Linked DNA regions of Homo sapiens. The protein of the gene in region 2 purifies or fractionates together with the protein of the main gene of each other region. This does not show direct contact. Each region holds a gene or a part of one and is shown on either strand. Other genes may lie near its edges.

Evidence for each region.
Region 1: the proteins of ZCCHC10 (region 2) and NEURL4 purify together in Homo sapiens (co-immunoprecipitation; 3 studies listed by BioGRID and IntAct, with this or other methods). This does not show direct contact.
Region 3: the proteins of ZCCHC10 (region 2) and CIBAR1 purify together in Homo sapiens (co-immunoprecipitation; 2 studies listed by BioGRID and IntAct, with this or other methods). This does not show direct contact.

What each region holds. Positions count from the first base shown.
Region 1 is NC_000017.11:7,322,774-7,326,425, forward strand, and holds part of NEURL4 (neuralized-like protein 4), read right to left. Parts: intron 3,571-3,652; coding exon 3,482-3,570; intron 2,941-3,481; coding exon 2,868-2,940; intron 2,701-2,867; coding exon 2,436-2,700; intron 2,208-2,435; coding exon 2,026-2,207; intron 1,708-2,025; coding exon 1,622-1,707; intron 1,498-1,621; coding exon 1,335-1,497; intron 1,240-1,334; coding exon 1,041-1,239; intron 951-1,040; coding exon 874-950; intron 791-873; coding exon 712-790; intron 351-711; coding exon 175-350; intron 94-174; coding exon 1-93. UniProt on the Homo sapiens protein: Promotes CCP110 ubiquitination and proteasome-dependent degradation. By counteracting accumulation of CP110, maintains normal centriolar homeostasis and preventing formation of ectopic microtubular organizing centers.
Region 2 is NC_000005.10:132,999,518-133,002,701, reverse strand, and holds part of ZCCHC10 (zinc finger CCHC domain-containing protein 10), read left to right. Parts: intron 1-2,282; exon of another isoform or gene 2,283-2,306; intron 2,307-2,500; coding exon of another isoform or gene 2,501-2,528; coding exon 2,529-2,570; intron 2,571-3,184.
Region 3 is NC_000008.11:93,724,504-93,728,155, forward strand, and holds part of CIBAR1 (CBY1-interacting BAR domain-containing protein 1), read left to right. Parts: intron 1-6; exon of another isoform or gene 7-92; intron 93-1,890; coding exon 1,891-2,010; intron 2,011-2,627; exon of another isoform or gene 2,628-2,741; intron 2,742-3,651; exon of another isoform or gene 3,652-3,652. UniProt on the Homo sapiens protein: Plays a critical role in regulating mitochondrial ultrastructure and function by maintaining the integrity of mitochondrial morphology, particularly the organization of cristae.

The DNA.
Region 1 (3,652 bases), on a different chromosome or scaffold from region 2:
TGCTGGTCGCCAGGCTGTTGTCCATGGGGCCGGTGGCATTGGTGATGGACACTTGGACACACTGGCCATAGAGATCGACTACCGCATACACCTCTGGGGAGGAGAGGGAAGGTCAGAAGCCTGACAGCCAGGTGGTCTGGGCTGAGGGTGGCAGGCTGAAAGCCACATAGTCACCTTTACCCGGAGGCAGGCCCGAGCAGGCAGCGCCTTGGTCCTGGCCGTTGATGAAGTAGTGCAGGTCGCCCTTGGCAGTTCGCATCATGCCAATGCGTGCACCTGTGCCCAGCGCATCCAGGTCACACCCATAATTGTTGCGCATCGTGTTACCGTCTTGCATGATGGCTGTACCACTGGGGGGATGGCAGAAGGGGTGAGTCAGCCTGCCAACTTCAACTTCACATTGGCCCCTGCCCACTCCCTGTCTGTCAGAACCCTCCAATGTCTTGGGCTGGTGTCTTGATCTGGGTGTAAGGCCCAATCCTATCTCCTCTGTCCCTGGGATCCCCTTAGGAAAAAGCAAGAACTGCCTAAGATGAAGGAGGACTGAGCCCCTGTGGGCCTGGGCAGGACTTCCCAGAATTCAAGGGGAGGGGACAGGTAGATCCCCTAGGTCTGTCACTACCCACAGCCACCATAGGCCCAAACCTTGCTTCCCTGATCCCAGCCAGCTCCACTCAGCCCCAAGCTGGTCCCCAAAGCAGGAAGCCCAACCTCAGCATCCATGTGTCATAGTCAATGTCTGTCATGGTGTTGGGGAATTCCAGGTCTTCAGGCCGAATAGCAGTCACTCCTGGGAGGAGGCAGGGGTAAGTCAAGGCCGATCCCCAAGGCACAGACATCCAACAGCCCCCAACACACACAGACGGCCCTCACCAGCCTCAATGGAGCCTGACCAGCGGTCCACCATCTTCTGAATGACAATTTCAAACAGCTCTCCATCCCGCAGGGCCCTGCCAGGAGACTGGCGATCAGAGAGGCTCTACTTGCATGGCTGAGGCTGGGCAGGAGGAAGGTGGGGACATGAAAGTTGAGAGACTGACCGGTTGGAGATGACGATGGCGTCATTAAACTCGCTGCGACAGTTGTGGCGGAGGGCGGTGCGGCCCCCGTTAGTGATGACTGCGTTACTGCCGTGCAGCTGATGGAAGCGCAGGTCAGAGCCCCCGGCCCCTGAGGACGGAGAGCTTGGAGACACCTGGTTGTTCCCCTCAGGGAGTGGTTCAGGAACTGGAGCCACCTCTGTAAAAGTGGACATCACCCATCAGGTCTCTAGGTGTCTCTCAGACCTCCCAAGGCCACCCTAACCCCCAGCCCCAGCCCAGCCCGGCCCTCACCCACGTCGTCCACAATGGTGGCCTGGGCCGCCTGGCCATAGAGATCGACGACAGCATAGACGCCCGGGGGCACGTTCCAGGCAGCAGGGCCCTGAGTCATCCCATTGACAAAGAAGTGGAGAGTCCCGTCCTCCCGCCGTACCACGCCCACCGTGTCCCCTGCCTTGGAAGAAGGGGGTGCTGGAGTGAGGAGTCAGGCAGAGTTCCTGCCGGGGCTGGTCCTGCATCAGCCCCGCGGTGTTTGTGATGCCCGCTGCGGCCGCCAGGCGGCGCACCCACTTTCCCACCTTGAGGCGGTCCAGATTGTGCCCGTATTCATCCAGGATGGTCGTCCCATTGTGCATCACCCCATTCCCAGTCATCATCCAGGTCCCTGGGAGGACAAGGAGCAGGAGGGGACATGAGGGGAAATGCAGGGCTCCTCTCCTTGCCACAGCAGCGCCCACAGGACTCCCGAGCCCACAGTCCACCTTGCCTTTTCTTTGATGACTAGATTTCTTCCCTGAGCAGGACAAGAAAACTCTGCAGCTTCCAAGACAGCCACAGCCCTGCCCACGGGACACTCTCTAGCCACTGAATGAGTGGTCACAAGAGTGACAAGTGAAAAAGGAGCTGCAGAACAAGTGCCAGGGCTTTGGGGATAGCTTCCCCCCAAAACCCTATCCTGTCCCTGCCCTTCCTGGGAGCTCACCAGAGCGCAAGTTGGTCATGGTGGAGGGCAACTGGAGGTAGGCAGGGTTGTGGGTGGTGACACCAATTTCAATGGAGCCAGCCCATTTGTCCACCATCTTGTCGATGCGCACCTGGAACACCTCTCCATCCCGCAGGGCTCTGCTGCTCAGCACCACGCCGTGATTGAAGTCATCGGTGGCACTGAGGGCACAGCAAGTGGAGAGTCAGATCCCCAACACACGCTCTCAATGTGCCAAGGCTTAGCCCAGCAATGCCTGCCAACACTCACTGCCCCAAGCCAAAGAACTAAAGCTCAACCTCCAGGAAGCTGCCCCCGCCAGGCTCCCTCTGCCTTCCACTTCCTTGCCCCGCCCCCCCCCCCCCATTAGAATCCCTTCTTCAGGCTTCTCCCCACCCCATGGGCCATACTGGGGCCTCAGGGCAGTGCGTCCCTCGTGGGTGATGGCTGCCTTCTGCCCACAGTTGGGGTGGAAGAGCAGGCGCTCAGGTTCTGCCTGGGCGGCAGGGGCAGCACGGCGGAGAGCACCCTCGGGGGACAGCGCCCGCAGGATGGCGTTGTTTCGGCGGAGACGGTCACTGTGGTTGTTATTGTGGACGATGGTCACCTTCACTGCCATCCCGTACAAGTCCACCACACCATACACCACTGGGGGCGTCAAGGGGGTTGCCACTCCTGTGGCAGGAAGGTACGGGGGTGTGGGAGTGGACAGGGAGAATGAGGGGAGAAAGTCAAACACAGGGAGGCCAAGCACCAAAGAGAAGCAGGAGGATGAGGTACAGCCCCCAGTCCCAGCCCCACCGAAAGCCCCGGCCCAGAGGCTCTCTCTGGGCGGCCCTTACCCTGATCGATACCATTAATGAAGAAGTGTAGGGCAGAGTTGGACTTCCTTGTGAGGCCAATGTGGTCACCCTCCTAATCAAAGAAGACAAACAGTTTAGAGGAGTCCTGAGGCCTGCTCAGCACCCCACTCCACACAGGAACAACTCCAGAAGGTATTCGTGAGAGTCTCAGACCACCCTGGAGGACAGGTCCTGGGTCCTTGTTTTCCAGACATGACAATTTCCACATTTCGTCAATGCTCCACGTGAGTCAGGCACTGAGTTAAACCACCTCACAGACATTAGCTTCTACAAGTCTCAGCCTATGGAATAAGTACTACTCGTAGGCTCATTTTAGAGATTGCAGGAGGTGGGGGAGCAATCAAAGAGGATAAGCTTCTTGCCCCGGTTCGCTACTACAAATGGGAAAACAGTAAGAGGAATTCAACCATCTGACTCCAAAATCTGAGTGCTGAACTCTTGGGCAACTCAGGCTTCTAGGAAGGAACCTTTAGGTGGAAGATACAGGGACTGCCTCTAGGTCACATAGGAGACCCTGCTTGGTGCCCTGGCAGGGACACAGAGTACCTGTGGCTCTGCTGAAAGCGGCCCAGGGATCTGTGCCCCACCCTCACCTGCAACTCATCCAGACTGAATTCGCAGTACTCCCGGCGGGTGCCCTTGCCATTGGTCAGGATTCCACAGCCGCTCATCATGATGGTGCCTGGGTGATAGTGGACACTTGGGTTCGGGTACGGGGCTTCCTTCCCCTCAGCAACACCAGGCCTGCACCCCCGCCCCTGCCC
Region 2 (3,184 bases):
ATATGTTCTTATGTGAATAATAGGTATTAAATTATTGTAGAACTTTTTATAATATGTATATAATATGCCCTTTGCAAATATTAAAACTTAGAATTGCAAGTATGAGTTTTCCAGAAATTATTTTATTAGGAATGTAAGCAAAAAAATGTTTGAAGACCCCTGTCCTAAAGAATGAAATACGGGTTATGAAAATTTTCATTCTAGTTTAGGCGCACACCTATAATCCTAGCACTTTGGGAAGCTAAGGTGGGAGGATCACTTGAGGACAGGAGTTTGAGACCAGCCTGGGCAACATAGCAAGTCTCACCTCTACAAAAAATAAATACATAAATAAAATTTTATTTTGACATTTACTTTTGTTTTTCTAATTGTATCTCACAAGTATTTTGGTCTAAAAATATATATAATTACATGAATCTGGCTCTGTTAAAAAAGATTGCTGGCCAGGAACCTTGGCTCACACCTGCAATCCCAGCATTTTGGGAGGCTGAGGCGGGTGGATCACAAGATCAGGAGATCGAGACCATCCTGGCTAACATGGTGAAACCCTGTCTCTACTAAAAATACAAAAAAATTAGCCAGACATAGTGGCGGGCACCTGTAGTCCCAGCTACTCGGGAGGCTGAGGCAGGAAATGGCATGAACCCGGGAGGTGGAGCTTGCAGTGAGCCGAGATCCAGCACTGCACTCCTGCCTGGGCGACAGAGGGAGACTCCATCTCAAAAAAAAAAAAAAAAAAAAAAAAAAAGATTGCTGAATTTTGATTCAGTTATAATTTAATAAGTATACTTCACCCTCTTATTTTATGCCCAAAATGACAATTCAGTAAGTAATTCCATTGTGTAAAAAACTTTACATAAATACATGTTTATGTTTGGAGACTCAGGAAACAATGATGGAAGCATTATCTAGGAAATATAGAGAAGGCCAGGATATAAAAACATTGGCCATGTGTGGTGGCTCACACTTGTAATCCCAACACTTTGGGAAGCTGAGGTGAGCAGATTGCTTGAGCTTAGGAGTTCAGGACCAGGCTGGGCAACATGGTCAAACCCCGTCTCTACAAAAAATACAAAAGTTAGGCATGGTGGTGCGTGTTGTAGTCCCAGCTACTCCAGAGGTTGAGGTGGGAGGATTGCTTGAGGCTGGGAGGCAGAGGTTGCGGTAAGCCAAGATCATGCCACTGCACTCCAGCCTGGGTAACAGTGAGACCCTATCTCAAAAAGAAAAAAAAAAGTTAAATTTACAGGACAGTGGTGATAGAATTAATTGTTTTTTTCTTGTTGTTGTTGTTGTTGTTGTTTTTATTTTGAGACAGAGTCTTGCTCTGTCGCCCAAACTGGAGTGCAATGGTGCGATCTCAGCTCACTGCAACCTCTGCCTCCCAGGTTCAAGAGATTCTCCTGCCTCAGTCTCCTGGGTAGCTGGGAGTACAGGCATGCACCACCAAGCCTGGCTAATTTTTGTGTTTTTTTTAGTAGAGACAGGGTTTCACCATGTTGGCCAGGCTGGTCTCGAACTCCTGACCTCAAATGATCTGCCTGCCTCGGCCTCCCAAACTGCTGGGATTACAGGTGTGAGCCACCGCACCTGGCCTAATTGTGTAATTTAAAAACCTGATTTAGTATGCATGTTGTTTGACAGAATAATAGCAGCAAGCTATTTGTCCCTTTCATTCAAATTTACCAGACTTTATAACTAATGTGAGTGAGCATAGTTTTGAAGTATTACATTTCTGGTCTTTAAAGAGTAAATAACTCGGCCAGGCAGGGTGGCTCACACCTGTAATCCCCAGGACTTTGGGAGGCCAAGGTGGGCGGATCATGAGGTCAGGAGTTTGAGACCAGCCTGGCCAGTATGATAAAACCCTGTCTCTACTAAAAATGTAAAAATTAGCCGGGCTTGGTGACACACACCTGTAGTCCCAGCTACTCAGGAGGCTGAGGCAGAAGAATTCCTTGAACCCAGGAGGCGGAGGTTGCAGTGAGCCAAGATCGCGCCACTGCACCAGCCTGGACAGCAGAACAAGACTTTGTCTCAAAAAAAAAAAAAAAAAAGTAAATAACGGGACATGCAGAAAAAGAAATAGTTATTTTAAATTAAAGGGCTGCTTTTGAAAAATTATGAAATGGCTATTTGTATGATTCTGAGAACTCAAACTACAAATTAGGGCTATTGTGCTATTAGCTTTGTTCTGTTGTTCAGGAGGTAGTGATACAGCTATATCAGCCTAAGTTCCAGACTAAAAAAATTTAATCATCTTAACTACTAACCTACCTGACTTTTATACACGTGCTAAGATGCATTGTCTTGCTTAAATGCTGGTTAAGTTGACTGCATGTACCGTATACAGCCTACAATGGCAGACTTTCCACTTGCTTATAATAAGAAATACTGTACTCTGTATGTGATAAAAACACAGAATCTTTCTCCAGAGTAAAATGATTTGGGGGATAGTAGAAGGGCTTGTCTGAGCTGTGTATAATCACTCTATTAACAGGAGCTTTTTTCCCCCTCGTGTTTATCAGCATTGGAGAAACCAATGTAGAAAGAAAGGCCAAGAAAAAAAGGTATGTGTGGTTTTAGCAGTGTTTTATAGATAACATGTAATACTAATTGGCGGGATGGGAAAGGTGATTTTAAAACAATAGCTATGCCAGATGCAGTGGCTCATGCCTATAATCCCAGCACTTTGGGAGGCCAAGGTGGGTGGATCACCTGAGGTCAGGAGTTGGAGACCAGCCTGTCCAACATGGTGAAACCGTGTCTCTACTAAAAATAGAAAAATTAGCTGGGTGTGGTGGCACATGCCTGTAATCCCAGCTACTTGAGAGGCTGAGGCAGGAGAATTGCTTGAACCTGGGAGGCAGAGGTTGCCATGAGCCAAGATCATGCCATTACACTCCAGCCTGGGCAACAGAGCGAAACTCTGTCTCAAAAAAAAATAGCTATAAGATTTGGATCTGAAGCCTCTTACTGCAATTTATAATTAAATAATCATCCTATTTTCTGATAAGTTCCTTTTTTTAACCTGTCTGGAAATGCATTGCTTCCATTTCTCCTTTTACTCCAACTTTCTAGAGTCCTTGTACGTGGAAACAATAAATAATTGTCTTCTCTTGGCTTAGAATAGGAAGTGTTAATAGACTGGTAAGAAATTGTTGGCCAGCCATATCTGGTCTGA
Region 3 (3,652 bases), on a different chromosome or scaffold from region 2:
TTGTAGAGATGGAGTTTCGCCATGTTGCCCAGGCTGGTCTTGAACTCCTGGGGCTCAAGCGATCCGCCTGCGTTGGCCTCCCAAAGTGTCAGGTGAGAAATTTAGGGAGAATGCCCAGGCTTATAGTTTGGTCTTCTAGGTAAAAGATAATGTCTTTCATTGTAATAGCTAATCTAGAGCTACACGGTTCAGTAAAGTAGCCATTAGGCATATATAACTATTTAAAGTTCAATTTAAAAATTCAGCTCCTCGGCCACGTGAACCACATTTCAAGTGCTTAGTAGCCACACATGGCCAGTGGCTACGTTTCTGTACAGTACAGAACAGCAAGCATTTCCATCATCTCAGAAAGTTCTTCTGGACAGTGCTGGTCTAGAGCAGGAGATAGTTGGGAGCATGAATACAGCTATCACAGGGTATGCTTGTCAGGGGATTAGTTGAAGGGTAGTCATTAACAGTGTAGATAAGATCTTTCAGAGAAACTTTTTTTTTGAGACAGGGTCTCACTCTATTGCCCAGGATGGAGTGCAGTGGCGTGTTGTGATCTTGGCTCACTGCAACCTCTGCCTCCCAGGCTCAAGTGATTCTCCTGCGTCAGCCTCCCAAGTAGCTGGGACTACAAGCATGCACCACCACCCCTGGCTGATTGTTTTTTTGTTTGGAGAGATAGGGTTTCGCCATGTTGCCCAGGCTGATCTCAAACTCCTAGGCTCAAGTGATCCTCCTGCCTTGGCCTCCCAAAGTGCTAGGATTATAGGCATGAGCCACTGTGTGCAGCAGCATTGTTTTTATATATAATAAGTGGCCTAAAGGAAACCCTTTAAAAATATTTTAGGTATAAGTAGTAGAAAAGGAGATGTAAAGAAATAGAGAAGCCAGGACAATGAAAGAGTTTAGTAGCATTTAAGTTTCAGGAAGGGGGTCAGTGAGGATGAAGAGGAAAAAAAGACCTTGGTGATGTGAGGAAGAGCAATTTTAGTGGGAGGTGAAAAGCTCAATTGTAGTTTGTTGATAAATAAATGGAAAAGAAATTTGTTTAAAAAGAAAATGGAGATGAAGTCGAATATTCAAGAAAGTTTTTTAAGTAGTTATACCTTGAGATAACTAAAAAAAAAAAGACTGATCTTGAGCTTGTTTTTTAGGAGAGGGAACCTGTGACAACAAAAGCTTTTGTTGGTTGGGTTTGAAGTTTTGGTTAAAGGAAAAATGCACATTGGAACTAAATCAGAATGGTATTTTTAAAGAGAAAGAAGGAAAAGGAGGGGCGAAAAGCTTGAGGGAAAGTTCAAGAGATTCATATCTGATAACCTTACCTATTAGTCTATATAGAGAAATGGTGGGGGTAGGGTAGAAAAGATGGAGCTAGAAAGGCTTAAAAGTGGTAAACATTTGGAAATAGTGCCTTAAGGAAAGAGAACTGACAAGTCATGGCATTCCAGATCCTAGTAAGGTTGGAATCCATAAATTATAGTGGTTCCAATTTACTCTTATGTAATTTTCATAGCAGTACTGCAGAGTTAAATTGGTAAGAGTTGAGAATTTGCAGAACAGAAAGATTCAAAGGTATGAGTCGCAGCCTCCCTACTAGCTTGCATGCTCTTTGAGGGTCTCAACTTCTGCAGTTCTCCTGGCAAAAGCATTTAAATGATTGTTTCATGACTAATTACTGTTTAATATCTGTCATCATCTTACATAGTTCAAATAGAATTTTTAGCTTTCATCTTTCTAGCTTATTTTTGTTGTCTTTTCTTTTACATTTACAATAATTGGAATTTTGTCCATTTGGGGGGAGTTGTTTTTTTAAAAAAAAATCTTAACTAAGGAACTTAATTTGACTGTCTTGATTTTGTTTAGCATCTACTTTATAATGCTATTTTATCATTACAATAGGTTTTCCGAAATTCTCTGTATGCACCAGATTATTCATCTCGTTTAGATATTGTAAGAGCAAATTCAAAGTCACCTCTTCAGAGATCACTGTCAGCTAAGTGTGTATCTGGAACAGGACAGGTGAGCAAGAAACCGTACTCTAAAGGAATTTGAGCTGCTGCCTTTGGAATTGTTGAGTTCTAAAAATGTTTCCCCTCAGTCATATCACCTCGGTAACTTATCCTCCCCTGGACCTATTTCTTCTCTTCTATAAAATGACAGAAGATTGCATTAAGTGCAGCTCTATTATTTCTTAATTATCTTTTATACTGTAATTACATATTACTCTCTAAAGCATAACACTTGAGAGCAGAAGTGGAAAAGACAAAAGAATGCTAATGCAGATGTGTTATCTGCTATAATATGAAGAGCAGATTCTGAAGTCCAACTTAGGTTTAAATCTCACTATCAAAACTTAGTGGATCTCATTAAATTATAAAGTTAAATACCAAATTATACTAAAAAAGGGCTTTTACTGAACACAGAAATCATTTCATTTTTTTTCTATATCCAGAAAGCTTGAGTTTCCCAGTATCTAGAGCAGGGGCTGACAAACTTTTTCTTTAAGATGTGGAGACTAACATTCTTAGGCTTTGTGGGCCATATGGTTTCTACCCCAACAACTATAAATAACAACTGTTAAGTAACACATAAAGCAGTATGACTGTGTTCTAATAAAATTCTATTTACAAAAGCAGGAGGCTGGCTGGGCCGCAACTTGCCAAACCCTGATCTAGAGAGCTATGCCCTTTTCATATCTAGCCTTCAGAATATAAAATTCAACAAACTTATTTTCAAGATACAACTTTTAGGTAAATTTGATACCATACTTTCTATTTTCATTTGATTCTCCTGTAAGCATTTATTTTGTTTTATATGTATGTATCTCTCCCCCAACCCAATTGTATTTTTTTTATTCCGGCATTAAGTGCCTTGAACATAAATTCCATAAATTTACTTTTATAGTCCATATAAAGTTTTGACTACAACTAATAATGTCACCTTAGCTAACACTTGTATAGCACTTCAGAATGCATTATCCCAGGGTTTCTCAACCTCAGCACTGCTGACTTTGGGACAAATAATTGGGCCCACCAGGGAGGAAGAAGGGGACGGAATACTGTCCTGTATATTGTGACGACATCAAGCAGATATTAGCATCCCCCGCCTCTACCTACAACATGCCAGTAGCACACATAAACACACAGCCCCAATACTGACAAACAACAGTGTCTCTAGACATTCCCAAATGTCCCCTGGGTTAGATATAATCACCCTCAAGAGAAGTTTTAAGCAATATGCCCCACGTGGCGGCAGTCAGGCAACTTAAAACTGGTGAATTCAGATTCTCAACTCATTCCATTTAAATCACACTACTTTTACATCAGTATTTCTGTCCCACTGCCTAGCTGAAATATCCTTCTATTTTTGCCATCCATTTTATGATTCTCAAATGCTGTTTCTGTGACCCAAAATTTATTTTTAATATTCATAATATAGAGTCTATACTTTTAATGTTTTTGAAGTATTGATGGCTATCCAACTAAAATCAAATGGCTAATTACACATTTTTATTCAAAAAAATGTGATGAATGAAAAAACTGGCTTCTGAGCTTAAAATTCATAGGGAATTTTCACTACTAAAAATTATGACATGGACATTTTTTTGAAATATTTGTTGTGTGCCCTTTAATAGCATAAAAATATACCAAGAATGTAAAAT